Linked DNA regions of Homo sapiens. The protein of the gene in region 3 interacts with the protein of the main gene of each other region in a pairwise test. Each region holds a gene or a part of one and is shown on either strand. Other genes may lie near its edges. The genes, in order: NUP54, TRIO, EXOC1, EXOC2, CCHCR1, SRGAP2 and SH3BP5.

What was found.
Region 1: the proteins of EXOC1 (region 3) and NUP54 interact in binary tests that used the Homo sapiens proteins (3 or more experiments, as listed by UniProt).
Region 2: the proteins of EXOC1 (region 3) and TRIO interact in a two-hybrid assay, tested with the Homo sapiens proteins (2 studies listed by BioGRID and IntAct).
Region 4: the proteins of EXOC1 (region 3) and EXOC2 interact in binary tests that used the Homo sapiens proteins (3 or more experiments, as listed by UniProt).
Region 5: the proteins of EXOC1 (region 3) and CCHCR1 interact in binary tests that used the Homo sapiens proteins (3 or more experiments, as listed by UniProt).
Region 6: the proteins of EXOC1 (region 3) and SRGAP2 interact in a two-hybrid assay, tested with the Homo sapiens proteins (2 studies listed by BioGRID and IntAct).
Region 7: the proteins of EXOC1 (region 3) and SH3BP5 interact in a two-hybrid assay, tested with the Homo sapiens proteins (2 studies listed by BioGRID and IntAct).

The regions. Positions count from the first base shown.
Region 1 is NC_000004.12:76,131,051-76,135,211, reverse strand, and holds part of NUP54 (nucleoporin p54), read left to right. Parts: intron 1-849; coding exon 850-1,037; intron 1,038-2,492; coding exon 2,493-2,689; intron 2,690-3,927; coding exon 3,928-3,982; intron 3,983-4,161. UniProt on the Homo sapiens protein: Component of the nuclear pore complex, a complex required for the trafficking across the nuclear membrane.
Region 2 is NC_000005.10:14,503,342-14,506,841, reverse strand, and holds part of TRIO (triple functional domain protein), read right to left. Parts: intron 2,450-3,500; coding exon 2,249-2,449; intron 1-2,248. UniProt on the Homo sapiens protein: Guanine nucleotide exchange factor (GEF) for RHOA and RAC1 GTPases. Involved in coordinating actin remodeling, which is necessary for cell migration and growth. Plays a key role in the regulation of neurite outgrowth and lamellipodia formation.
Region 3 is NC_000004.12:55,856,202-55,860,362, forward strand, and holds part of EXOC1 (exocyst complex component 1), read left to right. Parts: intron 1-2,112; 5' UTR 2,113-2,122; coding exon 2,123-2,246; intron 2,247-4,161.
Region 4 is NC_000006.12:490,252-494,412, reverse strand, and holds part of EXOC2 (exocyst complex component 2), read left to right. Parts: intron 1-3,226; coding exon 3,227-3,288; intron 3,289-4,161. UniProt on the Homo sapiens protein: Component of the exocyst complex involved in the docking of exocytic vesicles with fusion sites on the plasma membrane.
Region 5 is NC_000006.12:31,147,403-31,151,563, forward strand, and holds part of CCHCR1 (coiled-coil alpha-helical rod protein 1), read right to left. Parts: intron 3,721-4,161; coding exon 3,557-3,720; intron 3,459-3,556; coding exon 3,323-3,458; intron 3,164-3,322; coding exon 3,053-3,163; intron 2,814-3,052; coding exon 2,664-2,813; intron 1,327-2,663; coding exon 1,216-1,326; intron 1,110-1,215; coding exon 1,003-1,109; intron 1-1,002. UniProt on the Homo sapiens protein: May be a regulator of keratinocyte proliferation or differentiation.
Region 6 is NC_000001.11:206,388,368-206,392,528, forward strand, and holds part of SRGAP2 (SLIT-ROBO Rho GTPase-activating protein 2), read left to right. Parts: intron 1-4,161. UniProt on the Homo sapiens protein: Postsynaptic RAC1 GTPase activating protein (GAP) that plays a key role in neuronal morphogenesis and migration mainly during development of the cerebral cortex. Regulates excitatory and inhibitory synapse maturation and density in cortical pyramidal neurons.
Region 7 is NC_000003.12:15,262,760-15,266,920, reverse strand, and holds part of SH3BP5 (SH3 domain-binding protein 5), read left to right. Parts: intron 1-2,422; exon of another isoform or gene 2,423-2,625; intron 2,626-4,161. UniProt on the Homo sapiens protein: Functions as a guanine nucleotide exchange factor (GEF) with specificity for RAB11A and RAB25. Inhibits the auto- and transphosphorylation activity of BTK. Plays a negative regulatory role in BTK-related cytoplasmic signaling in B-cells.

The DNA.
Region 1 (4,161 bases), about 20 Mb from region 3:
TGTTTCATAAAGTTTTGTATTATATAAACCAATAAAGTGATACAGACATTCTTTATAGTATTTGTAAGTTGACTGTCATTACTGTGATTTAAAAGTATTTATTTGTAAATTACTTCTTTATATATTTAAAACTTAGTTTAAGATTCCATGAATCAGATATACAGATACTCCTCAACTTATTATGGGTTACATCCCAATAAACCCATCATAATTGAAAATATTGTAATTCAGAAATGCATTTAATACACCTAACCTACCAAGCATCATAGCCTAGCCTAGCCTACTTTAAACATGCTCAGAACACTTACATTAGTGTACAATTGGGCAGAATAATCTAACATCAAGTCCATCTTATAATAATAATAATTTTATAATAAAAACTAAAAGATCAGAATTCCATGTATGGTTTACATGTATGTATATATGAATGCGTATTGCTTTCACACCCTATAAAATGGAAAAATCATAAGTTGAGAATCTGTATAGTGAAATAAATTATAATTAGTTGGTGATTTTTGCAGTCACTTTTATAATGACATGCAGATGGTTCAGAAACAACCAACAATAATGAATATCAAAATTTTTTAGGGGAGAAAGCTGTTTAGTTACTCTCTCAAAGAGGAAATGTTAATCTTACTCTATAGGTTAATGTTATTCCTGGGTAAAATAGTTTTTCTTTATAATTTTGTGACCTCCTAGGGCACAAAATGGTGGGAAGAATCATTATTCCCTTAATTACCAGACATTAAGTTGTTTTTCCCATTTTAGCAGATATTAAGCTATTAATATTAAACACCTGATTTAAGATCTGTACATATTTTTTATATTGTTTATTTTGTCATTCCACAGGCAGTAGGTTATAGTTGCATGCCCAGTAATAAAGATGAAGATGGGCTAGTGGTTTTAGTTTTCAACAAAAAAGAAACAGAGATTCGAAGCCAACAACAACAGTTGGTAGAATCATTGCATAAAGTTTTGGGAGGAAACCAGACCCTTACTGTAAATGTAGAGGGCACTAAAACATTGCCAGATGATCAGTAAGTATACATAAATATACTGTTTATTTCTGTGTATTTATTTCTGGTCCTAAGGGAGTGATCAATAATGTTTTTGTTGCTAAAGCACAAATTAACTCTCAGAGCAGAATGCCTTTTCTCAGCTAGTGATTATTCAGTATTGATAAAAACATTTATTTAAAAGTTTTTTTAAAATTTTGGATTTTTTAACTTACTAGATGCTAATAATTTTCTAGATTTTCATTCAGGCCAGGAAGGGACCATTTGTCATAGATGCGTGCAAATTGAGGGCCATAAAGATGTTATTGGAAAATGTTATTAACTCATTACTGTTCATGTTCATTCATGAATAAATATTATTGCTTTACTTCCCTTGACCTAAGTATAATTCTCAGTGTTAGTGGCAAGACATTTATTTTAGGATATTTGGAGGAATGATTATTAATGAGATGCAATAATTGAACAGATTTTACTTGTGGTTGTAATTGCAGAGAAGCAGCCCATAAATTTCAACAGAATTTCCTATAGTAAATAACATTTACATAGGATTTTGCAACTAAGCAAACCCTTTTATAAATATTATCTTATTGGCCGGGCACGGTGGCTCACGCCTGTAATCCCAGCACTTTGGGAGGCCGAGACGGGCGGATCATGAGGTCAGGAGATCGAGGCCATCCTGGCTGACACGGTGAAACCCTGTCTCTACTAAAAATACAAAAAAAATCAGCCGGGCGTGGTGGCAGGTGCCTGTAGTCCCAGCTACGAGGGAGGCTGAGGCAGGAGAGTGGCATGAACCCAGGAGGCGGAGCTTGCAGTGAGCCAAGATTGAGCCACTGAACTCCAGCCTGAGGGACAGAGAGAGACTCCGTCTCAAAAAAAAAAACAAATACTATCTTATTTACCTGGTTCTTTTTAACTTTATCATTTAGGTTGATTTGTAAATGAACATTACATGAAGTAAAACTTTCTTATTTTCCAAGATTTAAGAAGAAAACAGTTGGGCACAGCAGCTCATCATACCTGTAATCCCAGAACTTTGGGAGGTCAAGGTGGGAGGATTGCTTGAGACCAGGAGTTTGAGACTAGCCTAGGCAACATAGCGAGTGTCCGTCTCTCAAAAAAATTTAAAAATATATATATATATATATCATATATATTTATGTATAGACACACATACATGTAAGCTAAACGTAGCGGGTGTGCAGCTGTACTCTCAGTTACTTGGAGGCTGAGGTGGGAGAATTGCTTAAGCCTGGGACATTGAGGCTGCAGTGATGATACCACTGCACTCCAGCCTGGGCAACAGAGCAAACCTTGCTCAAAAAAAAAAAAAAAGGAAACATTTTAATTGCCTCCTAAAACAACCATTTCTGAATTCAACTTAAACCCTTCTGAAATCACATGCTATGATATGCTGAGGTTTGTCGCTATGAGTTTTGTGCTCCATATTTTATAAATTGGTTATTCTTCCTTCAGGACAGAAGTTGTTATTTATGTTGTTGAGCGTTCGCCAAATGGTACTTCAAGAAGAGTTCCAGCTACAACGCTATATGCCCATTTTGAACAAGCCAATATAAAAACACAATTGCAGCAACTTGGTGTAACCCTTTCTATGACTAGAACAGAACTTTCTCCTGCACAGATCAAACAGCTTTTACAGAATCCTCCTGCTGGTATGTTTCTAGAATCACAGAGTTCAAAAAAAAAGAAAGATTTAGAACTAAACACTCCCCGTATTTCAGAGGTGTTGGTTGGTTATTAATGCTAATAAAATTAGTATCATCTTGTCATATATCTACTTATTTGGGAAATAGTTTTGAATATTTGTATTCATTTAGTTTTTTATTATATAGCTAATATGTATATGTTAAAATAGAAATTTTGAGAAATAGTGAACTGAAGAAAAATAGTCCATAATCCATCTACCCAAAGGTAATTTACTAGTAAAATTTTGGCTTATTTTTTTCTAGCTTATCTCATTTTAACTGAATATTCAAGTAAAACCTGAATGTATTCTAACTGTAAAATATTCTGGATGGCATAACTAGATTGACTATGTGATAGATTACCTTTAGTTCCTTTCCCCGGAAGTAACTACTGTCAATTTATGGTACTATGTTTAATCCTTTATCTGTGATTTGAAATGTAAGCATATTTACATGTAGATCTTTTAAAAAAGGATTCTCCATATACACCTTCAGCTTGCCTTTTTACAGTATTCCTTAGCACTTTTCATGTCAATACATGAAGATAAATCTTACTGTATTTAAACATTGCATAGTATTCCATGGATACACCTTTACTTAACACCTCTAAGTTGTTTTCTTTTTACTATTATAAACTGTACAGTAATTAACAATATCCTTGTAAACATGTCTTAGAACACATTGGTATATATTTCTTTAGAATAGATCTCTGGTAATGAAATTTTTGAGTCAATATTATGTATGTTAGATATTGCCAAATTGCCCTCCAGGGAAAGTTCTACCGTTTATATTCATAACAGGAATGTTATTTTTTCTGGCCACTGATGGCAAAATAATTAATTTAAAAATTAATACTTATTTTTAATATGTTTATTAGCTACATTTATATTTTTTGTGAGTTACCTATTTGTGTCCTTTGCCCATTTTCTAGATTTTTTTGTCTTCCTTTTTGATGTATAGGAACTCTTTCTATATTCTGGAGGTTAATCTATTATCCTATAGGTTATAGATAGTTCCTTTCAATCTGTGCTTTTTTTGAACTTTATTTATTCTGCAAAAATTTGTATTTTTACCATGATTATATTTGACAGTCACTTTTCATTATAGCTTCTAGGTATAGGGTCTTGCTTTAGGAAAGCCTTTGTCATACACATATTATAAAAATAGAAAATTGTTTTAGAAAAAATATTTTTTATTTGTGGTAGGTGTTGATCCTATTATCTGGGAACAGGCCAAGGTAGATAACCCTGATTCTGAAAAGTAAGTATGTCTTCATCTTGTTTCATTTAAGAACTAATATTTGCTACTAGGAAAGCAAACATGGGAGCTATTAATTATAATTCTTACATATGAGACAAGTTTATTTTCATTTTCCTGGCCTTTAAAAAATATTGATTATTGTCCAGCTAAAGCTTCAGCCAAAACAAAAAGAAAAAAAT
Region 2 (3,500 bases), on a different chromosome or scaffold from region 3:
GCCCGGCTGCCGGCAGTGCCAGGTGCAGCAGGCATCCTGCGGTATCTGCTGAAGGAAGGCAAGTAGCTCATGCTTCTCGGAGCTGTAGTTTCCTCACCTGTAGAATGGGCCACGGGAAGACTCACCGAGATCATGTAACCACAGGCTGGGCAGGAGGTGACACACTGAGTGCTCAGTGTTGGACTCAGAAGACTTCCTCCTCTGAAACTACTGTTCATACTAAAAAAACACTTACCCAGCACTGCCAAGTGCCAGGGGCTCAATGCCTTCTAACAACTCATTTAATCCTTATGACTCTCTGTGAAGTGGGCCTTAGTGTACCCATTTGATACACGAGGAAACTCAGGACAGAGAAAGCATGAAACGTTCCCAAGGTCCCACAGCTCCAGAGTGGAGAAGCCAGGATTGGACTGAGGTGGTCTGGCCCCCACCTCTCTCAACACCGGCCTATGCTGCTCTCTTTGCAAAACAGAAATCTGTAGGAAGATCAGCTGCCTGTCTAGCAATGGGGAGTCGCCGGTGAGAACAGGAGTAATCTGTCATGAAAACGGATCCTATTAACAGGATGGTGAGGCCAAACCATTTTGTTTCCCAGAAATGACAGCTGAAAGCACTGAAATGTCAGTCCAGAAACGAAGGCCTTTAGGAGATTTGTGACAAGCACTCAAGCCACAGTTTTGTTAAAACTCCCCAGGGAAGGTGAGCAGTGGCCATTGGTCACCAGCGTCTGGAGCCAGAAAGGAGACCTCCCGGGTCCTGAGGCTCCCAGGCCAGGCCTCGGCTTGGATGTCGGCTCGGCTCTTCCACACACATCGCCCCATCTCGGCCCCACGACAACCCTCCAAAGCCAGTGTGACTTTTAAGGACACCAGGGTGAGAAATGAGCCGATGAGAGGGAGGGCGGGGACTGAGGCCAGGCGAGGCCAGTGGACCTCCTCTCCATACACACTGCTCAGCCTCACTGCGCCCCACCGTCTGCCCTTCTGCCATGAGATGTGTTTTCTATTCTTGAAAGACGGGCTGGAAGCACGTCCCCATGTGCTGGGGGAGGTTCTAGCTGTGCAGCCATGGGTGGGAGGCCTTCCTGAGACACCCACTGTCACCCATGGCACATGGGCGGCCCGAGGAAGCTGGTAAGGCTGCATGTGGGGCCATGTGGGACGCTGTGGCAGCCTTGCCCTAGGAAGGGTATGGGGAGGCATTTATAGTTTCTTTAAGAAAAAAATGACAATAACTACAACATCAGGTACAGGGCCTGGAGGGAGTTCCTGCCGGCGAGGGGCCCCGAGCTTGAGTCTGCCCCTACATGACCCCATGGGGGCGCCCTGCTAATCCTATCCTTCCCACTGAAGAAGCTATGCAAACTTCCCAAATGGTGACAAAAGGTTTTACCCTTCCCCATGGAAAAGCAGCTGTAAATGCAAGTAAATGTATAAAATGACTCCCCCTAAAAAGGAGGAATCGACATTTTTCAAAGCTAAATGCACAGATGTTTGGGGTGGATGAATCCATGGGGGTTGTCCCTGCCTTGCAGGAGGTTGGGTGGCATCCCTGGCCTCCGGCCGCTCCCTGCCGGACTCACCCCCAGCCTGAGCTCTCCTGACATTTCCACGAGAACCCACCCCTAGATGAGAACCGCTCCTGTGGGACACAGGTTTCAAACTCTTTTCTTGACGTGACTAAATTATTTTCTGATCTTACACAGGAGCCCAGTAAGTACAACGGGGACCAGAGGGGCAGCTCTGGTTGGTGTGCCCGCGCCCCCTCTTCGGAGGACATTCTGCGGGGAGGTGCGTCTTACCCTCCCATCCAACTGGCCTTCACTTGGCAGGAGGCCTGAGGGGCACCCCGCTGATCCGGGGTGAGCTGGCCCTGCACAGGCTTGGGGTATCAGGTCAGCCTCCAACCACTAATGGGGGCTTGGGTTCAGCACCAGAGACAGCCTGGCCTCATGGGACCTTCAGAAAAGGGGTGGGGGGGGTGCATCTCCGGGTTGGCTGAGCATATCAGGTGTTCCATCCCAGCAGTGACTGCCCTTCATCAGGCAACCGCCCTGTGGAAGACCACACTGCTTTCTGCCATTACTGGAAGGCTTGAAAACTGCGGGCTCTGACAGTGAAGATGTTTTTTAGTTCTGTAAATTCTACAAACCCAATTTCTATCCTTCTTAGAGAACAAACAGGAACAACAAAACCCCCTGAGGTGGAGGCAGAGGGCTGGGCAGAGGGAAGGCCAGGTGTGTACGCACATTTCTAAGACCAGGATGTAGCTGGTGGGGGTCTCAAAGGTGTCGAGGAGGCCGACAAGCAGGGGGTGCTGGAGGCTCTGCAGGATGCCAAGCTCATGGGTGACCTGGTCGCGCTTCATCAACTTCTTGTTCACAAACTTAGTGGCCACTGCTCGCTTGGTTCCTTTCTGATCACATTTCTTAACGACAGAGAATCTGCCCCTGTAAAATATGTCAGGGGGACCATTTGCAGAGGCTGCTGAGGTCTGGCACCGAGAAAGACTCTGTTATCCTAAATGGACTGGCTGTGTGGTGGCCCAGCCCTGTCCAGAGGCCCTGCTCTCCCGGCCACTCCACGGAGGGGCTGTGGTGCCATGGCTGTCCCCCAAATCTGCCCTTGTCCCCGCAGCCACGCGGTTCTGCTGGTCCTTCCTCCCAGGCAGCCTTGGTCTCCTCACGTCGGTGGCTGCTTTCCCAGCACTGCGTGTGGTGGAAGTGACAGAGGAAGACCTCTGAGCCTTGGCCTTGCCGGGCGACTCCCTTCTGCTTCCCACGACGAGCAGAAGCTGGGATGGCTGCTCACGCCTCCCGTCAGCCACCTTTCCCTGCACGTTTGAAAGGTGCGTCTGCTGTGGTCACTGCCTCAGCCTCGCCCCTGTGGGGGTGTGTGGGGCAGGCACGAGGACCCTGGAGCTGCCCCTGATGACCCACTCCTGGGGACTGGCCACAACTCAACGCGATCTGGACGAGGCCTTGGACCTCAGGTGGGGGCCTGGGCTGGGGGCCTGAGGTGGGTGAGTGCATTCTGCACATGTGAGGACCAGAGATGCGCCTGTGGCGGGCAGACTGTGTGGTTAAAGGCCACGGTTTTGCTACTTCTGTCACTCGGAGGCGGGGGCTATTCGTCCCCTTGAATCAGGGCTGCCTGGGGCTGGCTCTGGCCCACAGGATGTGGAGGACGTTGGTCGTTCTGAGGCTGGGCCTTCAGAGGCCTTGACGCTCCTGCTCCTGCTGTTCTGGGATGCCACTGCCCTCACGTGGGGGAGCCCAGGGTGAAAGTCGATGTGGAAAGAGGCCAGTGTCCCAGACAACGCCTCTGACACGCATGGGGCATGGTGCACCAGCTGACCAGGCCAGGAGAGGCCAACAGAATAATGGTCCCATCTGCCCACTGCACTGGAAGAAGGCACATGTCACCACTGTCCTAAGACAGCATGTGCTGGTGTGACTTTTTATGCAGCCACAGACAGCTGACAGAGACAGCAACAGGAGC
Region 3 (4,161 bases):
ATTTGGTAGTCCAAGAGAAGTGAAGAAAATAATACAGTTTATGGAGATTGATAAAAACAAGATCAGCTGGTCTACAAACAGGGTGAAATAATTGTAGGGGATAGTTTAGGTATAGGGAAATGAGCACTGTCTCCAGGCTAGGTTGGAAAAGAAGTAAACTTGGAGAGGCCAGATTAAGAGAACAGAAAGAAGGGCAATGTCAGAAGACTAGAGGCTGAGATGAAGTGGAAGTGGGAAGATGTGAATTTTATGAGAAAAGCAATTTTTGGAATTGGAGCAGAGATAGAAGTTTTACAGATTGAGTAAAATATTGGAAAGACTTGTTTTACAAAATAGTCATTGTGCTATAAAAATACGTTGTAAATCATTTATTTAAAAATCATGATTTCTTCATTTTCCCATAGAAAGAAATAGTGTTTTAGAAGTTAGTGTCCTAGGCAAGCTCACATGTATGAAATACTACACATTTGCATTGAAAAATTGTAATACATATCCACACAAATATGTATATGAAAAATAAAATAGAGATTTAAAATTATTTTAAGTTGATGTTTGAAAAGATGCTGAGTTAGATAAGAAAAAGGAGATAAGTGGAAACCTATTTTTATAACAGTTTTATTGAGATTATGTATCATAAAATTTACCCTTTTCAATTGTATAATTGAGTGATTTTTGGCATATTCACAAGGTTGTATAACCATCATTACTATCTAGTTGAAAGACATTGTCATCACCCCAAAAAAGAAACTCCATACCCATTAACAGTCAATCCTCGTTTCCACCTTCCCTTCCAGCTCCCGAAAACCACTTATATTTCTGTATCTATGGATTTTCCTACTCTGGATATTTCATATAAATGGAATCATACAATACGTGGTCTTTTGTGGCTGACTCCTTTCACTTAGCATAATCTTTTCAAGATTCATCAATATTTTAGCATGTTTCATTACTTCATTTCCTTTTTTTCTTTTTTTTTTTTTTTTTTTTTTTTTTTGGAGACAGAGTCTGGCTCTGTCTCCCAGGCTGTAGTGCAGTGGCGCAGTCTCGGCTCACTGCAAGCTCCGCCTCCCGAGTTCATGCCATTCTCCTGCCTCAGCCTCTCCCAGTAGCTGGGACTACAGGCACCCACCACCATGCCCGGCTAATTTTTTTGTATTTTTAGTAGAGACGGGGTTTCACCGTGGTCTCGATCTCCTGACCTCTTGATCCGCCCGCCTCGGCCTCCCAAAGAGCTGGGATTACAAGCGTGAGCCACCGCCCGTGCCCGGCCCTTTGTTTTTTTTGCAGCCGAATAATAATCCATTGTATGGATATACCACATTTTGCTTATGTATCATTTGATGGACATTTCTGTTATTTCCATTTTTTGGCTATTGCAAATAGTGCTACCATGAACATTCATGTACAAATTTTTGTGTGGACATATGTTTTCAGTTCTCCTGGAGTGGAATTGTTGGATTATAAGGTAGCCCATGTTTCACTTTATGAGGAGTCACCAAGCTGTTTTCCAAAGTGGCTGCACCATTTTACAATCCCACCAGCAATGTATGAGAGTTCTGTTTCCTCTCATCTTCACCAACACTTGTTACACCAACACTTGTTATTTTCTATCGTTTTTATTTTAACCACCCTCATGGGTGTAAAGTGGTTGATACCTCATTGTGGTTTTGATTTGCATTTCCCTAGTGGCCAGTGATGTTAAGCATGTTTTCATATGCTTATTGGCCATTTGTATATCTTTGGAAAAATGTCTGTTCAGGTCTTTTATTCAGTTTTTAATGGGGTTATTTGTCTTCTTATTGTTGTAAGGGTTCTTTATGTAGAAAACTATATTAAAAGTTTGAGCAGTGGGTTGAAGATTTTTTTCTTAAATCTTGTGTGTGTGTGTATACTTGGTGAGCATTTCCAAACATTTTAGAGTTTGATAACACTGGTTCTCTAATTTTATTTCCAAACTTACAGCTTTGTATTTTTGTGATATAGGTGTATTCATATATTAAATCATTTTTCCTAGGCTTGTTAACCAAAAATTATTTTCAAATCATAAATTCAGAAGTATAAGATGGAATGATGTTGAGGGTGAGCTTAATATCTATACTCCACATTTTTCAGCTGAGAAAAGATGACAGCAATCAAGCATGCATTACAAAGAGACATTTTTACACCAAATGATGAACGCCTGCTGAGCATTGTGAATGTCTGCAAAGCAGGAAAAAAGAAAAAGAACTGTTTTTTATGTGCCACAGGTGGGTATTTAGTAAGAAAGAGTACTTGTTTTGTATCCTTTTATTATTTAGAAGATATTTCCTCTTTGTTTTGAATATCCTCATTGTCTCTGTAATTGGAAAAATTGTTGGGTCAACACATTCCTAGTTAACACTTGGCTTTGACAGGCTGTTAATTGTTGTCAATCTGGTGGCAGTGAAATAGTATCTCATTGTGGTTTTAAATTATATTTCCCTATAATGATGAGATTGAGCATCTTCTCATGAATTTCTTAGTCATTTCATTCTGTTGTGTATGAAATTTACCTGTTTAAGCCTTTTACTCATTTTTCTGTTGTGTTGCTTGTCCTTTTACTGATTTGTACAAGTTCTTTCTATAATCTGGTTATCAACCTTTTGTTGGTTGTATGCATCCCAGTTAGTGGCTTGTCTTTTCACTTTTTATGATGCCTGTTAATGAAATTTATAATTTAAACTAAATGAAATTAATTAATCCTTTATGGCTTTCCCTTTTGGTGTCTTAAAAGATCCTTCCCTGTATCTTTTGTGCAGTCATAAAAATATTTTCCTAAATTCAAAAGTTTTATAATTTTGCCTTTTACAGTTTAGTCTTAGTTCACCTGTGTTGACATCTGTCATGGTGTGTGTGAGCATTTCTGGTTGTCATCTTATATGTTATTTTTATTTTGTTTTTGTTCTTTATTCCACCTAAATTTTAGAAACAACTTGTCGAGTTTCAGACTTTGTTGGGATTTTGATTGGAATTGTTTTGAACCTATAGTTCAATTTGGAGAGAACTTGCATTTTTATTGTATTGAATCTTTGTGTCCATGAACATGGTACAGTTCTCTATTTATCTAGGTGTTTTTTAACTTTATAAGTTTCATCATTTTCTCTAAAGGTTTGTCATGTATATTCTTGGATTTACTCCTGAGTATTGGTTTATTCTTAGATTTTATTTGATAGTCGTGAAAGCGCTTATTAACATTAATACATTTTAAAATCATATATTGTTAGAATTCTACAATGAATTGTTGGTGTTTTATATGGATGTCTATCAATCTTGCCAAACTTTCTTATTAATTCTAATTATATGTAGACTTTTTGAAAGTAGTGATATTTTTCTTCCTTCCTTTATAGTTTTTATATCTTTTATTTTTGTTGGTTTAGTTTCCTAGTTAGGACTATCAATACAGTCTCCATCTCAAGGAGAATGACTTCATTTTCAAGCATGGTATTTGGTATAGGGTTTTTATAGCTATACTTTACAGTGTTAAGTAAGTTCCCTTCTATTCCTGGTTTCTTACACTTTTTTAAAAAATCATGAATGGGAGTTGAATTTTATCAACTGCTTTTTCATATCATTGATATCATAAAATTTTCTTCCTTGTTAGTGTAGTATATAATTGTACTTGGTTTTTGAAATGATAAATTGACTTTTTAGAATGACCTCACTCAATCGTAATGTATTTGTATTAGGCCATTCTTGCATTGCTATAAAGAAATTCTTAGGCCAGGAGCAGTGGCTCATGCCTGTAATTCCAGCACTTAGGGAAGCTGAGGTGGGCAGATCGCTGGAGCCCAGGAGTTTAATTAAGACCAGCCTGGGCAACATAGTAAGAACTTTATATATAAATGTATTGTTGCTCTTTGAAATGGTATTTTGCTCTTTCAAGCCTCACAGACTTTACTTATGTCAATCATTCTTTAGATTTTTACCTCATACTTTTCTTTAAAACTGGTCTGAATTTATTATTAATATATCATTCCTTTATTTTTCAAGGAATCTCCTCTGATCTTCTAGTCTGACTTAGATGCTTCTATTAGGATTCTGTGCTTTCCTCGGTCATAGCACTTGTTGCAAAGTATTACACCTCTTTTAGTATCAGCTACTAGGCACCTGAAAGCTATACTTGCAATGAGTGAATGAAGAATG
Region 4 (4,161 bases), on a different chromosome or scaffold from region 3:
ATATGCACACTGAAGTGGATCAGAACTACAGGACTGAGTGACGGATGGAAGCCATGTGGTCATGTGAGGCTGTGTTACTGGGAGAGCCTGTGAGTAAACAGGCATTCACTGTAAAGTTCTTTCAGAGCCTCCATACATTTGAAATTTTTTCAAAATACATATTTGGGAAAGAAAAAGAGCAGAGAGCACTTGTTAATTTGGTTAGGGGAGAATCTGTTGCAAAAGCTTCTGCTGTGTTTCCATTTGCCACCAGTTTTCTCTGAAAATTGATGTATCAGATCTTTGATATTATCGTTTAAGTTGAAAGGTCATGGTTATTATAATAGTTCCATCACAGGAGATGAGTAGTATAAACTGTGTAATACTACAGATGAATTAACAGGCAGTCGCAGTCGCTACTGTGGGCCTTAGCAGTCTTAGAATTTTAACAGGCATCCGCCCTCTCTACACATTACCTCCGTAATCCATTTATCTGATGGCTAAACCACTCTCAAAACCAGCAGGGAGAGGTTGGAAAGTGATCTCAGAATTAGCTGGAAAATTTTTTCACGTACACATGTCCAGAAACTACTGGCCATCAAACTGTTCCAGCCTCCAGTTTTTGAGACCTCCTCGGGCCTGGACAGACATGTGTATTTTGAAAAAGGTCGTGAGTCTAAACTCCCGCTTCACTCTCCCACTGAGAATGACTTTGAGAGCTTCCTTCCTTGAGGCCATAGCTCTAAGAGGGATAGCAGGTTAACCTTTGATAGGCAATTAGGTGCCAAACTCCAGAACTGTCCTGAGAGCTTGGTGAAAAGGGGAGTGACAGTTTGGTGATTTTGGCAGATCTTTTAGCATGATGTTTTCTGGATTACAGTTTTGTAGGTATTATATAGCTAACCACAGTTTTTATAATTGGCATAACTTACAGGTTAATTAAAACACTCTATCACCTTGATTGAATAAAATTTCTACCAGAAGATTGGTTTTGTAGTAATTTAATCTTTCTCCTAAAATGGTCAGCTGAAAGTTCTACCTTTTTTCCTGGTAGGTCTGTTTTTACCTATACTAGAATATAAACAAAATAGAGACAGAAATTGTCATACTTTCTAGCATTTGTAACTTTCTAGTTATATACTGTTTTTCAGGCTTCTAAGGGACTGAAAAAATGAAACCAAACAATTGCCTTCCAAACAGAAAAAGGTCACTGAATATCCTGTGTCATATATATCTGCTTTGATCTAGATGGCTTACAGAATTTCTAATAAACTGTGAAGAGCTGGCTGTGTCTTTTGTCATTGTTTTATGTTTTGTCCACTCCTTGAGAATAAGGGATATTTCTTTTAAATGTTCTCCTGTGTGTCCCACTCACTGTGGGCACCTACTTCAGAACATCAAGTTATCATTGTCAGTGGGTCTGCTGGAGCTCCCAGGAAACTGACTTGTATGTCAGATCACACTTATTCATGCTTGCGTAGAAGTGAAAGCTTAACTTTTTTCTTAAAACTTTTATGAAATATTTCACATAGCATACGATCTGTCTACAATAGAAAAAGAATATGCAATTCAATGATTTTTGGTATATTCAAAGAGCTGTCCAGTCATCACCATCATCAATTTTAGAACATTTCATCCCAAAAGAAACCCCTGACCCATTAAGTCTAATCATTTGCCTCCCAAACCACCCTTTCCCCCTACAGACAACTACCAATTGGCTTTCTATCTCTATGATTTGTCTACTCTGAAAATTTCGTATAAATGGAAACATGAAAATATGACCCTTTGTGACTGGCTTCTTTCATGTAGCGTAATGTTTCAGGGTTCATCCATGTTGTGACATATGCCAGTGCCTCGCTTCTTTTTACATATAATATTCCACTTTAAATATGCCACATTTTATTTATCCATTCATCAGCTGATGGGCATTTGTGGTTTTCCCACCTTTGATTAATATGCAGAATGCTTCTGTGAACACTCCTATACAAGTTCTTGTGTGGACATGTGTTTTCATGTCTCGTGCGTGCATACCAAGGAGCGGAATTGCTAGGTCATGTGGTTACTCTATACTTAATCTTCTGAGGAACTGCCAGACGGTTCTCCAAAGTGGCAGACATTCCTACCAGCAATTTTTGAGGGTTCCAATGTCTCTACATCCTCACCATTATTTGTTATTGTCTCTTATTGATTATAGCCATCCTAGTGGGTGTGAAGTGATACCTCATTCTGTGGGTCGTCCTTTCACATTCTGGATGGTGTCTTTGTAGCACTGGATTTTTAATTTTGGTGAAGTCCACTTTATCTGTTTTGTTGTTTATACTTTCGGCATGATTTCTAAGAAGGGTTTCCTAGCCTAAGGTCACAAAGATTTACACTGGGTTTCTTCTGATAGTTTCATAAGTTTCTTACATTTAGATCTGTGATCCGTGTTAATTTTTGTGTTAAGGAAAGGATTCAACTTCATTCTTCTGCATGTGGATATCCAGTTGCCCTAGCACCATTTGTTGAACAGACTGTTCTTCCCCCACTGAGTGGTCTTGGCACCCTTGTTGAATAGCAGTTGATCATAAATATGAGGGTATACAATATTTAAATATATTTTAGCTTTGGAGTATGGCTGAAGTCAGAAAGTCTGAGGCCTCTAAATGTGTTACTCTAAGATTGTTTTGGCTGTTCTGAGTGCCTTGCATTTCCTTATGAATTTTACAATCAGCTTGCCAGTTTCCATTAAGGAAAAAAAAAGCAGCTGTGATTTTAATAGAGATTGCATTGAATCCATAGAGCAGAGTTTAGGTTTTGAGATTAAGGCAGTGTGCCTGCAAGGGCATAGGTGTCAGGAAGCATGCCAAGCCACATCCTTACCTCTGTGGGACACGGGCCCTTTCAGGGCAGTGTTTCAAAGTGTCTTTCCTCTTGCAAGACTAAAAGAAAAATTAGTGGTTAGAGAGTAAATACAGATGGCTGGAAAATCATGACACAGTTTGTACTTTTCATAGTGAGATATCTAGTTCCCTGCCCTCACACAGTCATCCTTGACTACAAGTTAATTTTCAGTCAACGAACATTTTGTGGTAGCAAATTTCTTCGGACTGTTTTAGAAACTCTACTCATGACTGGCGGTCACCATGGTGGTATTACGCCAACCCCATCCTACGATGAGCAGGCTGGAGACCCTTAACCTTAGTACTTGTTTATATTTGATAATATAAATTTTCCTGTTGTCACTTTGTCTTTTTCTCATTTTCAGGCGAGACTTGAAATCTGTGCTTTGAGGGACACTGTGGCTGTTTACCTGACACCCGAAAGCAAGTAAGTGGCAGTGTTCTTTAGTTGAGTGCTCTATTAAAAATAAAGGTTGTCTTACTAGTCAATTCTGTCCTCTGTAAAGATGACTGATCAGAGCACATGCTCATGAATTTGTGATGTGATAAAGTTTATGTCAAGGCCACTTTGTAACACAATGTAAATGAAAGGGGTTTAATATAATTTTTTCATTTACTACTGACAAATCTTAGTCTTATAATACAGCAGAGTATGACATACTTCTTAAAGCAAAAGAGGATAAGAACTGAGTCTTAGTCTGTTCATAGCAGACTCTGAAGGACAGCTCAAGTGCTGTAAATATCAGTATAAGAGGAAGCCTTGTGGTTTCTCTGCAAAATTTTGTAGTGGAAATTTGATAATTTTTAGCTGTTTTGAATGAAAGTCAGGATTTCCTACCATTGAAATATCAGTAGGTGAAGTGAAGCAGAACTACTGTTTGTCTGTGCAAAATTGTTTACTACGTGGGCAACATTACCTAGGAAATACTGGGTTATAGTGTTGATGTGCCTGAGAAGCCAAGTCGTATGCAAATGAAATGTTTGAGGACACTGTAATATGCTTACTCACTCATTTCCAGCATCTGATAACATGGCTTGCTGTCATTCTGTCAGCTTTGCAACTGAAAATACGTTTTCCATTTTTTCCTAACCAATGAAGTTAGCCTTTCATTCCCGTCGGTCACAGCTCACCAGCAGCCATTTTTAGTGGGCCATGTTCACTGTTGAGCCACACCTTTTCCCAGCCATCGTTTGTCTGTACAACATACTAACAGGATGGAAAGCACCCAGCCCATGTTGGATGTGTGCACACTTCATGCAAATGCCTACCCTCTTCCTGCTGACTTAGTTTTAGAGTATA
Region 5 (4,161 bases), on a different chromosome or scaffold from region 3:
AAAAAAAAAAAAAAAAAAAAGAACTACCTGCCTTGGGTACCTCAGTGTCTAAGGCTGAGGGGAAGTCATCACCAGCACAAAGAAGCTTTGCTGTTTTCTTAGAGGTTTTTCTGAAGGTCATACAACAATTGTAGGTAATGAAACAACTAGGAAGTTGGTAGGAGAGACAAAGGCTGGCAATTGATTTAGAAGGAAACTAACTGGCTTACATTTTAGATGGAATAGTAAGCAAGTTAAGTATATAATAAGCAAGTAAGTATATAGCTTTAAATAAATAGACTAGGCCAGGTGCAGTGGCTCACACCTATAATTCCAGCACTTTGGGAGGCTGAGGTGGGTGGATCACCTGAGGTCAGGAGTTCAAGACCAGCCTGGCCAACATGGTGAAACCCCGTCCCTACTAAAAATGCAAAAATTAGCCGGGTGTAGTGGAGGACACTGGTGGAGGATGCCTGTAATCCAGCTACTCGGGAGGCTGAGGCAGGAGAATCACTTGAACCAGGGAGGTGAGGTTGCAGTGAGCCAAGATTGCGCCATTGCACTCCAGCCTGGGTGACAGAGCGAGACTTTGTCTCAAAATAAATAAATAAATAGACTAAATTTTTCTCCAGTGAAACGGATTGCCCGTAAAATTTTAGAAAAAAAAAGGAAGATGAAGTGTCTACACTCTCCATCCTTGAACAATACTGCAAGTAAAGATCCTCCCGGGTGCTCTATTTAGCTCAAGCCATTACTAGACTGAACTGCAGGAGGAAGCAAGGCCTCACCTCCAGCCAAACATGCAACGGGAAATTCATAACAAGCAATCAGGTATGAATGCAGAAGGGGCTTCCCCAGGAAAAGAAACGAACACAGGAACATTGATAGAGCTAAATCTGCCCAGCCCTGTAGCCTCCAGTGGCCACTTTCCAGCCCCTCTTGCCTGAGGATCCTCAGCAACAAGGTGCCCAGGAACCTGAGGTGGCAGAAACACTACTCCACCCACCCCTCCATCCCTGATACCTGCTGACAGCATTGACCACAAGCCTCAGCTGCTCCTCGGCTGAGGCTGTCTGCTGCTGCCACCGACGCCTGGCCTCCTGAGCACGGCTCAGCTCCAACTGCAGGCCCTGGGGAGGATGCAGCAAAGGACAGGGTCCCTCCCTAAGTCCTGGCTGCAGCCCCGGAACAGGGGCTCCCTTGCCCTCCCCGAGTCTCTAGTAGGCTGACACCAACCTTGGCACCCATACGCTCCACCTCCACCTCTGCGGCTTTGTCCTGCAGGGATCGCTGCAGGATGGCCTGCTCCTGGCTCTGGGATGTCACTTTTTCCTGGAGTGAGGCCACCTGGGGGAGGAGAGAGAGCTAGGCAGGGCCCTCTAGAGCTAAAAGATGAGGGGGGCACTGGAAGCAAAGTGGCAGGTGCAGAGATCTCTGTAAGAATGCCATGCAGGGGCTGGGGGGAGGGGGGGCGGGCGACGGGGGTGGGTTGCAGCACGGTGGCTCACACCTGTAATCCCAGCACTTTGGGAGGCCGAGGCAGATGGATCACTTGAGGTCAGGGGTTCAAGATCAGCCTGACCAACATGGTGAAAGCCTGTCTCTACTAAAAATACAAAAATTAGCTGAGCGTGATGGCATGTGCCTGTAATCCCAGCTACTCGGGAGGCTGAGGCAGGAGAATCACTTGAACCTGGGAGGCGGAGGTTGCAGTGAGCTGAGATCAGGCCACTGCACTCCAGCCTGGTGACAAGAACAAGACTCCTTCTCAAAAAAAAAAAAAAAAAAAAAAGAAAAGAAAAAGAATGAATGCCACGCAGGGAGACAGAAGCTTAGGTTCTGAGGATGGAATCTGAGCCCAGTGTTCCATGTTCCACATTCCATGTGCCCACTCAAAGATGGGAATAGCCCTTGACCCACCCCACAAGACCCACCAACTGACCATGCCACTCTCCTCAGATGCTGTCACCTCCTCAGAGAGGCTGTCTCTGAGCATCCTACCTGAGGCTGACTCACCCCACAGTCTCTCCGTCACATTATCTTTTGAATTTTTCTTACTACTTTCTTTTTTTTTGAGAAAAGATCTCGCTTTGTCACCCAGGCTAGAGTGCAGTGATGGGATCACAGTTCACTGTGGCCTCGCCTCGACCTCCCAGCCTCAGGTGATCCTCCCACCTCATCCTCCAGAGTAGCTGGGACTACAGGAATGAGCCACTATGACCGGCTAATTTTTTGTATTTTTAGTAGAGACGGGATTTCACATGTTGCCCAGGCTGGTCTCGAACTCCTGACCTCCAGTGATCCACCTGCCTCGGTCTCCCAAACTGTTGGCATTACTTGACTGGGCACGGTGGCTCACACCTGTAATCCCATCACTTTGGGAGGCTGAGGCAGGTGAATCACCTGAGGTCAGGAGTTCAAGACCAAAGTGATCGCATTATAGGTGTGAGCCACTGCACCTGGCTTCAATCTTTCTATCGCACATATAATTACCCAACATTATCTGTTTACTTGCGTGTTCTGTGTCTCTGTTCTAGAATGCAAGCTCCACATTTTAGTTTTGTTCAGGGCTGTGTGCCCAGCATGTGGCAACCACTCAATAAACACTGGTTGAATGGATGCCACCTTCATGGAAGGAGCAAGGTGCTGGGAGGGAATACCGGGAGAAAAGAGAGTGCAGTGACCTGTCCCTTCAGCTGCTTAACAGAGTCACTGTGTTCCAGCTCCTGGGCCTTTAGCTGCACCATGAGGGCAAACACCTTCTCCCGCCAGCGGTTCAGCAGGGACTGGCACTTCCTGGTAAACTCAGGCTCCAGGGAATCTGAAGGTTGAACCTGAGGGAGAAGGAGTGGGAGAAAAGTGTGGGCTCCTGGGGGAGGAGAGGAAGGAGGTGGCATCTTTGTTTCTCCTCTGTCCTGCCTGGGCAACATGAGCTACAGCAAGAGGAGTTCACAGGAAGGAGATCTAAGCAGGTTCTGGGGCACATTGACCCCTCCTGCCCACAGGGAGGGAGGCAGGGGACAGTAGATGCAGGATGCGGCTGAGGGTGAGGGGTCTGGGGGTTGGGCTGTACCTTCCTGGTCAGCTCCTCCTCCTGCAGGGCGAGGATGTGTGTGAGGCTCTGCACCCGCACCTGCAGCAGCTCCGCGGTGGCATGCAGGCTGTCCCGGTCCTCCTGCAAGTGCTGCGGGCAGAGGAAAGCAGCCCCTCTGTAGGGCCTCCATGCCGCCTTAGGTACCACCTTCTCTCCCGGAGGCTGTGCTCTACACGCTCCTCCAAGGGCCACGCTTGCCTCCCAACCTGATCCCTAAGTCTGCACACAGATACATTCCTGCACCCTCACCTGCATGGTTTCCAGAAGCTTCTGTCGCTCCAGTTCCCATGTCTGGCTGTGGACCTCAGAAGGCACTTGTTCCCCAACATATTTTCTTAGATTCTCAACCAGGGTCACCTGAGCCTCCAAGTCTTCCTGGGTCTTGCTAGGGTTGGGGTGGGAATGGGACAGCCATCAGTGGGGCGCCCTGCAGATCCACCACATCACTAATTGCTGGGCTCCCGTCGGCGTCCGCCCACCTACCTCAGCTGCTTCCGAAGCAGCTCGGCCTCCCTCTGAGCCTCGGCCAGCTCCTTGGCTTCCCCTGCTCTTCTGGTTTCCAGACTACTCAGAGACTTCTCCAAGCCCTCAGCCTTGCTGGTCAAACTGGAAAGAGCCTCCTCGTGAGCCTGTGTCAAAGAGGACAGCTGCGGAAAGAAGAGGGGGCTCAGCAGAGGCTCGACCCCACATGGAGGCCTTCCTTGTTCCCTTCACTCCCACTTTCTGTGACCTTAGAGAATGACCCAACCAATCAGCCAACTGTGCACAGCAAATGGAGAGCTGGCAACTCACTCTCCGCAGCTGCCCCACAACCCATCAGGAGTTCTTGTCCGATCTCCCCCAAAACATATCTTCACCTCTCTGTCTCCGTCTCCACTGCCACCAACCCTCATCTTTTGCCTGGGCAACAGCGACCATCTCCTAACTAGTCTTTACAAACCCTCAGTGGCTTCTCACAGCATTCACAACAAAACCCAGGTGTCTCTCCACACCTGCAGGCCAGGGGACCCGGCCTCTGCCTACCTCCTGAGCTCACCCTGGAGGCTCTCCCACTGCTCCCCGCTCCGGCCACGGGGAGTCTGCTGAGA
Region 6 (4,161 bases), on a different chromosome or scaffold from region 3:
AGGCACTAGGGAGACAAGAACAAATAAGAGATGTTTCTGACCTCAAGGCGTTTAGTTTTAATAGGGAGAGACAGAAAAGTAAAGCATCAAGTGAAAAATGAAGTGACAAGAACTCATTTACATGTCTGCACAGAGGACAGGGATGAAGTCAGGCTCCTTGAAGAGATACTTGAATTGAATCTTTATTGCCAAGAACTCTTTTCTTGTTCTCTACATGTTCCCTTTTTTGTTGCATCCAACTTTTGTTTCATGATGCAGTATCGTTTTATTTCTCATTTATCTCTCCAGGGCTATTATGGATATATTGTTTTCAAACTTTTCTTCTTGTTGTATAATATTTCTTCTAAATTGCTAGTTTTGGTCTTGGTCTTTCATATTAGACATTTCCTTTAAATGCCTGGTCATTCTTAGCTGCCTATTCACATTTTAAAGTGAGGCACTAAAAGATTCTATGTCAGCTGTGGCCTTCACAGTAGGGTGTTCTAACTGGGCTGTGTCCTTGTGGAAGCCCCAACTTTAGTATTTCTAGGTCTCTTATCTTGGATGGTCAGATTGCCGAGAGATCACACTTTTGATCTCCCACTCATGTCTGGGAGCTGAGTTGTGAAGAGGCCTAGACCATCTCAAAATTTAACATAGACTTCAGCTAATCCTCCTGTTGAAGTTCAGTATACCCCTATCCTCAGCTGAACCTTGTATCCCCTAGTCCATGGACCCTCTCTAACAGAATAAACCTCTCATCTAGTCTTCCACTACAATGGGAGGGGGATCTTGGGGCCTCACTGTTCTCAGACTTCCTTTTTTTTTTTTTTTTTTTTTTTTTTTGAGATGGAGTCTTGCTCTGTTGCCCAGGCTGGAGTGCAGTGGCGTGATCTCGGCTCACTGCAAGCTCCACCTCCCAGGTTCATGCCATTCTCCTGCCTCAGCCTCCCGAGTAGCTGGGACTACAGGCACCCGCCACCACGCCCAGTTAATTTATTTTTGTATTTTTAGTAGAGGCGGGGTTTCATCGTGTTAGCCAGGATGGTCTCAATCTCCTGACCTCGTGATCCGCCCGCCTGGGCCTCCCAAAGTGCTGGGATTACAGGCATGAGCCGCCATGCCCGGCCTGTTCTCAGACTTTCAATAGCTTATTTTGTGTTTAGCTCTACCTTCATCCCACTGCTACTTATTTCTCTTCGGGCTTCTGTGATATAAATCTGGCTGCTTCCTGGCTCACTCTAGTTTTGGTTTAGGACTCAAGTAGATGAGTTACTGTTTGCCTACCTGCTTTTCGGCTTCAGCTTCCATTCTTTTTGTTTTTCTCAATTTATACCTAAATGATAATCATTTTAGAACCTTTTTTTTCCTATTATTTTAGTGTGGCTGTCAGAGGGAGCAGAGCTAAATATGTGACTTCAGTGTTTAGTTTTTCAAAGTAAAGTGGAATGTTCTTTGCAGAACTGAGAATTTAGACTTTTCAGTTTTTCCCCATAGTTTGCATTTGCCTATCTATATATAGATAGAAGTATGTATATGTATATCTTTATGTATACATATCTATATATACATATATGTGTAGCTATATGTCTAAGACATAGATATATAGATATACATACATTTACATATGTATATGTACATAGATATATATATCTAAGTCCTATCTTGGCTTTCTCTAAGTCCTATCTTGACTATAAATATATATTTATAAATATATATTTAACATGTATATCTGTATCTATATACATTTCTAAGTCCTGTCTTGACTTTCCTATTTTTTCAATTGTTTTGGCATCACTTATTTAAGCTTCAGCTTCTAGGTACCTCAGTTTTCTCTTGAGCTGGAAGGCACTAATAAAGCTTCTCCAGTATTTACCCAGAAGAGAGATTCAGTGTCATTCAGTCATTTGGGCAACCACTTTGTAAAACTACCATTGTGTATATGACATATTTCTCCACTGTGAGAAGAAAACACAAAAGAAGTAGAGCTTAGCGTGAAGAATGTATAGTTTCTTAGGCAAAGTAGCGTTTTACTCTCTTTTAACAAGAAAGTTCTTTAAGTTTTTTAGGGGAAAGTAACATTGTAAATTGTTGATTTTTGTTACTTCATTTGTTGACTTGGTAGCGCTATTCTTTGACCCCTTTTTTATCTCATGTTTATTCATAACGTTTTCTCTTTATCATGCACCTTCATGAAATAGGAAATCACTTTAAAAAAGAAAAAAAGCACTCACTTTTGTAACTTCTCACTAAGCTTTTGAATCCCATGGTCAGATTCAGGTGAAAAAAGAGAAAAAAAAGAGGAGCCTCCTATCTACACTTCTTCAGCTGAGATAACAGATGCCTCTTTTCCACTTCTTAGTTAACCTGGAAAGCTGGGGGTCTGTTTGAATTACTTAGAAAGGCTTTTAAACGCCATTAGTTGTTAAGTATTTTTTCTTCTGTATAGAAAATATGAAGAGTATTATCCTGGTAAAATTTACGGGAAGTAGTGTTAGGTTCAGAATGAGGTGAAACTGATTTAAAACATTCTGCATTCAAAATGAGACATAATTTAGACTCTAATGTACTTTGATTTTGTCAGTGTCCCAGTATTCTTTATTCTTTCATCTGCCTCTAGCTGATCGTAGGGGCTAGATTAGTATACCCACAAAGTCTTTCTAAGCTAGATTTTCTCAGCGTCAGCACCATTGACATTTGGGCCAGATAATTAGTTGTTGTGGGGGCTGTCCTGTGCATGGGATGTTCAGCAGCATCCCTGACCTCTAACTACTAGATGCCAGTAGCAATCCCCAAGTTGTGACAATCAAAAATATTTCCAGACACTGCCACATTTCCCCTGGGGGCCAAAATAGCCCCAGGTTGAGACACTTCTCTAACTCAGGTTCATACATGGAACCAGTTTCTCTTTTCAGGAATATCTTGACCATATTTAACCTTTCCTCCCAACCAGTTCAGCTCCAGTCCTATCCAGAGGAGAGTCGGTGTTGCTTAATGGCTAAGAATGTGGTCTTTGGAGTCTGACAGACCTGGGTTTGAATCCTGATTCCACCATTTACTCATTGTATGACCTTGGGTATGATAGTTAATCTCTCTGAGCCTTATTTCCTTATCTTTAGAAATAGAAATAATAACAGTGTCTTTCACAGAGTTATTGTAAGAATTAAATGAGGTAATGTACGTAAAGCCCATGGTACACAATGTTTATTAAGTGGTAGATATTAATAATAATATTGTACCTTTGCACTCCTGTGTTACACACACACATGCACACACACACACACACACACACACATGCACACACACACCCAACTTCTACTCTCTAATTCTCCATCTCAAAGAAATCTTATGGCATCACACTTTCAGCACTCGTGAACTCCCTGTGTGGAAACAGAAAGTTCCCACAGAGTAGAGCAGGCACTAGGTGGCTGGAAGTAGTATGTTTAGTAGGATTGGAAACAAGCTTGAGTTCTAGGCTTCCTGGCCTCCCTGTTAAGAGAAAGGATTGGACTCCTAGATGGTTGCTTTGATGGAAAATCATCCTTCACCTTTTATACTACTTCCCTCCTGTGGCAATTCCAGTTATACTTGATATGGATTTTATTCCTTCCCAGACTCTTACCTGAATTGTTTTGAAGGCTTACAGTCTTCATAGGGTTGTTGTCTAGATTGTGGAATTGTCCTAAGGATGAAATGAGAAAATGTGTTGTGTGGTACTTGGCATAAAGCCAGGAATATACTAAGTGCTCAGTAAATGATAACTGGCATTGCAGTTGCTGTGAGAGGGTGTTTGATCTGGATAAAGCAGAACAGACAGATCCCCAGAATGCCAGGCCGGTAAAAGGAGCTTTTGGAAGCTTTTCCTCTTCCCTATTTTATATCTGAAAGGTAACAGAAAGCATAGGCTACTCCATAGGCTGCACTGCCCTCTTCGGGGTTCCTGACCAGCCCAGAAAGGCTTTGCCCTTGGGGCCTGAGAGTGGTGGTGTTGTTTCCCATCTACTCAGTATTATGAGGTGACTAAGTGATAGAAATCACCTGGCCAATATTAAAGAGAAATGATTACAAATGATAATGAATAGAAATAAATAATACATGATGGATAGACATTAAGTTATTTCAATAAGAGGAAATGTTGGCTCAGTTCACATATTGCTTTCCTGTGCTTTGGAGTGGTCTTTA
Region 7 (4,161 bases), on a different chromosome or scaffold from region 3:
GGACACTGGGGTTCCCACGTAACGTGCCCAAGATTATCTATGCGGCCCCTCACACTTCCTGTGGTGACATCAGGCAGCCACACTTGGAGCCATGGCTGAAGCCGATATACTAGGAGGTGGCAGCAGCCCTGGTGTGCTCTGTTAGGCCACATGCAGTGGCACAGACAGGGACAAAGGATCAGTTTTCTGCTTAGTGCTGGGGTTGATGAGGACTCTGGAAAATACAAGTAGCTTGTGGCAGAGCTGCCAACCTTGTAGTTGAGCAGCCTTCCTTGGGGCACAGGGCCTGGGGTCCCTGCTGCTCTCCAGCTGGGGAGCTTGGGCAGCATAGGACCCCTTCAGCCTCAGCTGTTTTGGCACTGAAGTAGCCTTTATGGGAAGGTGATAGCTTTTCATCCTCTGAGAGAGGAGGGCTGGCATCCTGGGAGGGAGAAATTGGCTTTTCTGATGTCTGCTGAAAGAGCTCAGACAGAGGAAGAGGGAAATGTGACTTGGAAATGAGAGGCACGAACTGTTTCTGAACTAGCCCCAGGTGGCTGCTGGAGAGGACACGACGCAGGGCCAGCCCTTCTCCTGGTTCACAGTGGATATGAGCCTGGGATGGCAGGTGAGGAGCTGCTCACGACAGCCTCCCTGACGTTGGTGGGTGTGAACCGCCTCCCTTCCACACAGTGGGAAGAAGCGCCTTCTTAGGTCTCATTGCCCAAGGACGCAGTAAGAATCAGGAAACAGTCTGAAACAGTCAGAATGGAGGTTCTCAGCAGACAGTGAGATTGCCTCCCTGGGCAAAGAGGCTCCTGACCGCCCCTCTGTGATGTTGGAAGAGATGTTGGGAGTGTAACTGAGGGTGCAAAGGCCCTGGAGATTGGAGAGTCGAGAAAGCTGTAACAGGAGGCTGAGGAGCTGTGCCTGGTGGATGTCTACTAAGCCGGTTGGGCCATTCTGCTGGTGTGGGACCCCGCGAAGAGGCTGGCCAAGCCAGATTGAAACACCCAATCAGTGCCCAGTGGTGCCCATGCGGGAAGGTGCCGGGTGTTTGCTATTTTCTGTGGGCTGATATGAGCAGGGTCCGGGGCTGAGCAGTATCTCTGTGGTCCCTGGATCTTCAGCATCTCCGGAGTATGCTGCTCCGGAGTATGGGGTGCAGTTTGCCACACCTACCCCTGAGCCGCTCTCCTCCTTACTTATCCCACCACACCTGACCCACATCACTGCACACAGCTCATGCCTGATGCTAGGCTGTAGATAGAGGAGCTCCTTGATTACCTAGGAGACATAACCAAGGCGACATGCTTAGTGACCTTCTTCCTCAAGGCAGGAAGCTGAGTTGTGTGGAGGTCTCTTCCAGGAGCTGGAGGGTTGTGTGTGTGTGTGTGTGTGTGTGTGTGTGTGTGTGTGTGTGTGTGTGACGGAGTCTCGCCCTGTAGCTCAGGCTGGAGTGCAGCGGCGCGATCTTGGCTCATTGCAACCTCCACCTCCCAGGTTCAAGCTTTTCTCCTGCCTCAGCCTCCTGAGGAGCTGGGACTACAGGCACCAACCACCACACCCAGCTAATTTTTGTATTTTTAGTAGAGACGTGGTTTCACCATGTTGGCCAGGTTGGTCTTGAACTCCTGACCTCAAGTGATCTGCCCGCCTTGGCCTCCCAAAGTGCTGGGATTACAGGCATGAGCCCCATCGCACCTGGCTGCCCTGGAGGTTTTGTATATATATGAGAAGTGGGGAGATAGGGACAGGATGTGGTAGACGTGGCCTGGTGGGGCGAAGCAGGGGACAGTGATGTGCTGGCCACTTCTTCAGTTTTCACTGCCAGTATTGCCATGGGCTCGGAGCTTTCCAAGTGTTTTATTGTAGAAAGCCTGTGCTTCTGCTTGCAGCCTAGAGGCCAAGATAGAATGAGGGCCTGTGTGCAGATGGTGAGAATCCTGCTTCTTACAGGGGACTCTTTCTGTACAGGACCCTCAAATTACAGGTTCTACAAGTCTGTTGAAAATGCATTCTGACAGCTCCTTAAAGGTAAACCTTTAATTGGATCTTTTTGTAATAAAACAATCACCCCCAACATGTTGTCTTTGATGAACCTGAAGGTTTGAGTTTTCATAAAGGTTATACCAGTAAATCCTTAAAGCTTAAGATTTACTGCTGTTTCCCCAAGTATCAAGCATGAGATATTTTTAGTGCATTTTGTTTCCTTGTGAAATATCTGGTTTTGGAAGCAAAGGGAAAGGATTCTCTTAGCCCTTTGGTCTTGGTTGAGAAGTCATGTGAGCAAGCATGTCTCCTCGTGCCAGCTTAGCTCAGTTCTCTCCTATTTTTCTTCTCTGATTTTGTTGTTTTTCTGTTTTTAAAAATTATCTGAAGCACTGAAGCCTTTGTTAAAAGATATTTTTAAGAAGGTAAAAGCATAATTGGGATACAAATATAAAATTTTCTCGTGTCAAATATTTTATTTCTCTCATTAAATAAGGAGGGATCTAACAGTGATGTTACAATTCTTGAATTCAAAAAATACAAACTCATAGAAAACCAAGAGTGCCTCAATGAATTACCAACAGATGCAAAATGGACTATTACAAGGGCAGTCAGTAATCCACTGCATCTGTGACACAGTTCATCTTCATTTCTCTGGAAAAAAAAAAAAACCATTTGTATTACTGTCAGTTTTCTACAACTTACAGGGTTGTAAAACAGCTTCAAGACAAAGTCAGAGATAGCCTGGAAGGGTGCCCTAGACAGGACACCCTGTAATTTTTAATGCCCATATAAAAGTCTTTCATAATTTTTCATGGTACCTTTAAAAATCCTTATCGTAAGTAATAAGTAAACTATCCTAGGGCTGATTGTGGCTGTTGACTGGAGGAGATGGTAGAACATTGGCAACCTTCCTCTGTGGCCTTCTTTTTTAACTGTGAACTAAAGACATGGTGGTACCTCCCTAAAATTGTTCTACGGGGTCTGAGAGAGCTGACTAGTGACCATGAGCCCTCTGGGCTCCTCTCGGATGCTCCCCAGAGAATACAGAATTAGAGAATAACCCTTTAGCCTAACCTCTACTGTCTCTCCGGTTTATTTTATAACACTGAGTGGTAGGCAGAAGACAGGGAAAGAAATCGCAAGCTGCTTATGTGGCCTGAACTGCGGTTTGTTTCCCTCCTCTTTCTTCAAGGCAGGCCTTGTTCTGATGCTTTTCTGTAGGTAAGCAAGGAGAGAATTAACATTGCCCATGTCTCTGGGACTGGGCCTGTGAGCTGCTTTTGTTTTTTGGCCATTGAGGGCCCTTGAGTATTGGTTTTGTAACTCATTTTTTTCAACAGACTTAACAAAGTGTTCCCACCAGAATTTCCCACCAGAACTTTGACTTGTCTTCTGCTCACAAATGTTTGTGTACCTCAAAATCTGATGTGAATGACTGGGTTTTAATTTAATTGCTTAAATGTAAAGTTTGCCCTTTCTGGATCCTGAGTTCTTCTGTGCACAGCCAACTAGTTCAGAATATTTGGGAAAGGACCAAACAATGGAAGTCATGGCTGCTTTGCTGGCTTGACTGCCATCGTGCCTGGCACGATGCCTAGTTCTTGGTTTTGGTGGTCTCCCCATTAGGTTCCCCATCTCTTAGGTTCCCACTGCTGCTATTTGGCCATTTGCCTGCCCATCAGGCCCCTGCCCCAAGGTGTGAACGGGAGGAGGTCTAGGTGGCTACTTAGATCGAGGAACCTGAGAAGAAAGTGGACAGCTGTTGAATCAGAAAATAGTTCAAAATTTTCTGGTTTTTGTTTTTCCATTTTCTTTCTCAGTCATTGCCACAGCCAATTTAGCTATTTAATCTTTCCTCACAAGGCTTTTTCAAAATAGATAAATAGGAAAAGAAAACCACTGTTGGGAAGTTGGTTTATTCTTAGTCTGACCACTAATTTGCTCAAATATATATCTAGATATAGATATCTATATATACATATATATTTTGAGATGGAGTCTTGCTGTGCTGCCCAGGATGGAGTGCAGTGGCGTGATCTCGGCTTACTGCAACCTTCATCTCCTGGGTTCAGGTGATTCTCCTGCCTCAGCCTTTCAAGTAGCTGGGACTACAGGCATGTGCCACCATGCCTGGCAAATGTTTATATTTTTAGTAGAGACGGGGTTTTGCCATGTTGGCCAGGCTGG